2 separate regions of the Homo sapiens genome follow, and region 2 is linked to region 1. Evidence: fine-mapped expression QTL. A gene starts in region 1. The other region holds a variant in brackets. All regions are shown on one strand. Distances are between the middles of the regions.

Region 1 (2,921 bases):
AGATAAGTAAACTGTGGCTTGAATAGGTTAACTAATTTCTCCCAGATCACATGGAGAAGAAGAAGCAGAGCTGGGATTCTGAGCCAGGTCTGATTGACCCAGAATTTGCACTCCTAATGACTATTCTCCTCTTACCTGCTCTCCTCTAAGAAGATTCAGCTTCAGCCAAACTTATCTCTTCTTCGGTCCCTCAGGTCTCAGTGCCTTCATCCAGTCAGTGCCGCATCTGAATTGCTTTTCTGTCCTGTTCACCTGTCTGAATTCTACCCTTCCTTCAAGGTTCAAGAGTAATTAGCTCTTCCATAATGTTGCTATGCCTTGGTATTTTTTCATGAGGATGGCTCTGTTCCTCACATGTGTTGTAATTTCAGTGCAAATCCAATATGTTAAGTATTACACAGTACGTGGTACACACAGACCCTTTCTCATAGTTGGTTCCCAAAAGAATGTGTGATTGCTTAATGGAGGACAGGGTGCTGGGATGGGCCAGACTGCCGTGAGAGCTGGGAAGAAAGAGAGAGTAGCCACTGGATAGAATGCAGTTTATAGGACCTCAAAGAGAATCCAAGAATCCTAATTCCCAGCATCACCAGATTTACAATCCTAGAAGCATCATCTTAGCATGGCCCGATTCTTTCCACAAACCCATCAGAATCTTTGCAAATGCTTCCTCCCCCTACATGCATAGAAAATAGATTTAGAGGGATTCTAGACAAGAAAGAAAATAGACATAGGGAGGGACATGGATCTGTATGGGGAAAGGGGAGGATTCTAGACCTCTTCTGTTGTTACTCAATCTTCTCTCCCATCTGTCTTTGCTCTTAGAAAATCAGCCCACACAGGACTAGGAGAGACGAGGGGAGAAGGAATAAGTGGGTTCCCAAAATGGGGTAGAATCTAGTCTGTTGTCATCCAGGGAGCATTAACAGGTATTGTTAAACACAAGATTTAAGAAAAGAGAGGATAAGATGGAGGGACAGCAATAAAGAAGGGAAGAAAATCTGGAGTGAGTGAGAGAAGCAGGCAGGAGAAGGGGGAAGATGGAGGAAGATGAGACTTAAAAAGGAACAGTAGAGGGTGGAAAGTGTCAGAGCAAGACCTGTTTGTGTTTTCTCCTAGGTGTGGGAAGAAGCTGTAGTATGTATGTGGGAGGCGGGGGAGATAACAGTGTATGTCTATATTCCGCTCTCCCTCCCACCCTCTGTTCTAAATTCCACCCAGCACATAAGCCAATACAGACAAAAGTCTTAATGTTAGATAAAATCAATGTTTCCCAAATCCCGTTCCCCTTGCATTAATGCCTGATGACTTCCCCCATGCCTTCCCTCCACCCCATGCTTGTCTCACGATAGGCTTTGTCGTGCTGATTTGTCCATGGGAAGGACAATGAGGCCATCACCTTCCTCCAGCCCACAGTGGCCAAGAGGACTTAGAGCCTCCCATCTCCCAGGTCACTCTTCTCCTGTAGCTCCATTCTTCTCCTGGCCTCTCTCAGACAAGGAACACATATGGGATTGGCCTTAAGGAAAGGGAAATTCCTTGGGGAGTAAAACTTAGGCTTAATTCATAAGATAAAGCCTGGCTCAGGCTGCTAAGGGCAAATGAGCAATGGGAGTTATTAAAAAGTATGTGAGATGTTGCATCAGATGCACATAATTATTGGGAGACTGTCTTGGGGCCAACATTTCAGAGTTACTGATCAAAGGACCAAGATGAAGAAGGATAAGAACCCTAAAGAGACGTGAATTCCCAGGGAGGTTTACAAGAACCAAATCCCTCAGCACCATGGGCAGTGCAAGGCCTCCACCCTCTCCTATCACCACTGTAGTTGGAAAAGTGAGTTATGTCCTAGGACACAGTCCAGGTCACCCCCTCTATAAACTCCAAAGCCTTTTTCATATGTACAGTCATTAAGGTACCATCTCTTATCCCAATCTCTGATCTGCTCTTCTCTCAGCCAAAGTGAACTCTCAATGTAAATTGGCTAAGTTCATCCTCAAGATATAATTCAACTACCATAAGCTTCACAATTATTAAATGATTTTAACCATTCAGTGGTTTTTAGTATATTCACAAACTTGTGTAACCATCACCACTACCTAATTCCAGAACATTTTCTTCGTTCTGAAAAGAAATCTCATATCCTTTAGCAGTCACTGCCCATTCTGTTCTCTCCTCAGTCTCTGGAAACCACTAATCTACTTTTTGTCTCTGGATTTGCCTGTTCTGGACATTTCCTAAAAATTGAATCATATAACACACATATGATGATATATGGCTTTTGTGTCCTGCTTCTTTCACTTATGTTTTTAAGTTTCATCTGTACTGTAGCATGTACCAGTACTAGTCATGTACCAGTCATTCCTTTTTATGACTGGATAATATTACATCATATGGATATACCACTTTTGTAAATCAGTCAGTCAGCTCTCGGACATTTGAGTTCTTTCCACTTTTTAGCTATTATGAATAAAGCTGCTAGGAATATTCATGTATAGGATTTTGTGTGGATGTATTCTTTCATTTTTCTTTGGTATATAGCTAGATGTGGAATTGCTGGATTTTATAGCAACTGTGCCTAATCTTTTGAGGAATAACCATCTTACTTAGAATAGTGAGAGTGAAGTGGCATCTCATAATTTTCGCATTTGTATTTATAAAGAATATGGTCTGTAGTTCTTTTCTTGTATCTTTGTCTGGCTTTGGTATCAAGATAATGCTGGCCTCATAGAATGTGTTAAAAAGTGTTCCCTTTGCTTCTGTTTTTTTTTTTTTTTTTTACAAGAACTTGCATAGTATTGGTGTTCATACTCCTTTAAATGTTTGGCAGAATTTACCACTAAAGCCATCTGGTACTGGACTTTTCTTGGTTGGGAGGTTTTTTAAACACTGATTCAACATTTACTTGTTATAGGTCTGTT
Region 2 (2,921 bases), 21 kb after region 1:
CTCCTAAATGGATAAAGGCAACCAAAGATAACCAGGCATTTAAGAAAGGCTTTCAACATTAAAAAGCAAAAACAAAATAAATAGAAAAATGAATGAGAAGAAAACAAAAATGATACAGAGAATGTAAGAAACCTTTACAAAAAACCCTTTAGTTCATGTAATTAGTATCTTTAGAGAGAAGCAAGAAGATATAATACCTATAAATTAAGAATGGAATTATATTTAAAAACTAGAGAACAAAAAAAGAGCTTTTGGGAATTCAAATATGTTTACAGAAATTAAAACTTCAACAGAGGGATTGGAAAATCAAGTTGAGGAAATCTCTTCTGAATGTAGAATAAAAAATTAGGTAAGCAACTGAAGAAAATACATAAGAGGCTTAGAAATTATTTCAGTAGGAATTCCCAAAAGAATGGCAACTAAAAAGGTGAAAAAATTATCAAAGAAATAAAAGTCTCTCAGACTGAAAAACATCATCAGAAGAAATTTAATCCACACTAAGCACTTTTTCATAAAATTTCAAAACATTAAGAATAAAAACGAGGTCCTTAAAGTCTCCAGAGATAAGGAATAGGTCACCCACCCACAAAATAACAAGAAGCATAACAGCTTCAGATTAATCAAGAACAAACTGGATGCTAAAGGAAAATTAAGAAATACCTTCAGCCAGGCCTGGTGGTGTATGCCTGTAGTCCCAGCTGCTGGGGAGGCTAGGGTGGAAGGATCACTTAAGCCCATGAGTTTGAGGCTGCAGTGATCTATGATTACACCACTGCACTTCAGCCTGCATAACAGAGTGAGACCCTATCTAGAGAGAGAGAGAGAGAGAGAGAGAAAGAAGGAAAGAGAAAGAAAGAGAGAAAGAAAAGCAATAAAGAAAGAGAAAGGAAGGAAGGAAAGGAAAAGAAAGAAGAAAGAAAGAAAGAGAGAGAGAAAGAAAGAAAGAGAGAAAAAGAGAAAAATAAAAGAGTGAGGGAATAATATAACGACTCCCATTGACCTGTTTTTCAGATGGTTTCCTCAAATATCTAAAGATCCCTGGATAAACATTCATGTGTAAGATGCTGTGAGGATTGAAAAAAGCAAGGATGGTTACTCTCATTACTCCTATTCAACAACATACTGGAATTCTCAGCCAGTTAATTAAGGTAATAAAAAGAAATAAAAGGTGTATTAGTCCATTTTCATATTGCTGTGAAGAAATACCCAAGACTGGGTAATTTATAAAGAAAGAGAGGTTTAAAAGTCCACGCATAGTGGCTCATGCCTGTAATTGCGACATTTTGGGAGGCTGAGATGGGTGGATTATTTGAAGTCAGGAGTTCAAGACCAGCCGCGCCACCATGGTGAAACCCCGTCTCTACTAAAATTACAACAATTAGCCAGGTGTGGTGGCA[A/T]ACACCTGTAATCCCAGCTACTCGGGAGGCTGAGGCAGGAGAATCTCTTGAACCCAGGAGGCGGAGGTTGCGGTGAACTGAGATCACGCCACTGCACTCCCGCCTGGGTGACAGAGTGATACTCCGTCTCAAACAAATAAATAAGTAAGTAAAAATTAAACTAAATAAATAAAAGTTTGGCCGGGCACGGTGGCTCACACCTATAATCCCAGCACTTTGGGAGGCCAAGGCGGGCAGATCACTTGAGGCCAGGAGTTCAAGACCAGTTCATAATGACAAGACTCTACTACAAGTACAAAAATTAGCTGAATGTGATGGCACACACCTGTACCTGTAATTCCAGCTACATGGGAGGCTGAGGCAGTAGAATTGCTTGAACTCGGGGGGCGGAAATGCAGTGAGCCGAGATCGCGCCACTGCACTCCAGCCTGGGTGACACAGTGAGACTATGTCTCAAAAAACAAACAAACAAACAAACACCCCCCCCACACATACTTAAAAATATTAAAATACTGACAATACCAAGTGCTTACTAGGATGAGAAGCAACTAGAACTCTGACATTGCTGGTGGGATTACAAAATGATATTGCCACTCTGGAAAACAGTTTGGCAGTCTTATAAAGTTAAATACACTTTATAATATGACAACAATTCTTAGGTATTTACCCTAGAAAACTTAAAAGCTTATATTCGCACCAAAACCTGTAAATAAATAGTTGTAATGGCTCCATTTATAATTTCCAAAACAACAATAAACAACTGGAAACAACCCCATGTCCTTCAGTGGTAAATAGATAAACCTAACATTCCTCAGTGAGAAAAAGCAATGAACTGTTGATACATGCAACCACTTAGATGAATCTCAAAGGCATTATTGAATGAAAGAAGTTAGTCCTAAAATGTTACATGCTGTATGATTCCATTGATATGACATTCTCAAAAAGACAAGCCTATAGTGATAGAGAACAGATGTGTGGTTGCCAAGACTTAGGGATGGGAAGGACAGTGTGATTACAAAGGGGTAGCATGAGGGAGTTTTCGGAGGTAATGAAACTCTTCTGTATCTTGTGGTGCTTACCTAAATCAACGTGTGTTAAAATTCATAAAACTGTGACCAGTCACGGTAGCTTACATCTGTAATCCTAGCACTTTGGGAGGCCAAGGCAGGAGGATTGCTGGAGTCCAGGAGTTTGAGACCAGCCTGGACAACATACTGAGACCCTGTCTCTACCAAAATTTAAAAAACTGTTTTCATTAGCCAGGTGTGGTGGCAGCCTCCCAGTGACTTGGGAGGCTGAGGTGGGATGATCGCTTGAGCCTGGGAGGTCAAGGCTGCAGTGAGCTGTGATCATTCTACTGCACTCCAGTGACAGAGCAAGACCTCATCTCAAAAAAAAAAAATTATAAAATTGTCTACAAAGTCAACTTTACTGAATGTTAATTCAAAATTAAAATGAAAACATAAAGCTGTAAAGGCAAAGATATTTTCAGATATGCCAGGTTTTAAAAATTTACCTCCCACA

What was found. PIP is the estimated chance that this variant, and not a neighbour inherited with it, causes the effect.
Region 2: its variant is the best candidate, but not a certain one, in a credible set for the expression of OR4D1 in T cells (TOPMed, PIP 0.56).

Annotation. Positions count from the first base shown.
Region 1 is chr17:58,147,011-58,149,931 of GRCh38, reverse strand. OR4D1 (olfactory receptor family 4 subfamily D member 1) reads right to left here and starts at 1,548. Exons shown (of 4, transcript NM_001386095.1): 1 at 1,348-1,548; 2 at 136-503.
Region 2 is chr17:58,126,000-58,128,920 of GRCh38, reverse strand. No RefSeq gene overlaps it. Among named protein-coding and RNA genes, the nearest start is that of OR4D1, 21 kb to the left of the region's middle. The variant A/T (reference allele first, on the strand shown) is at 1,398.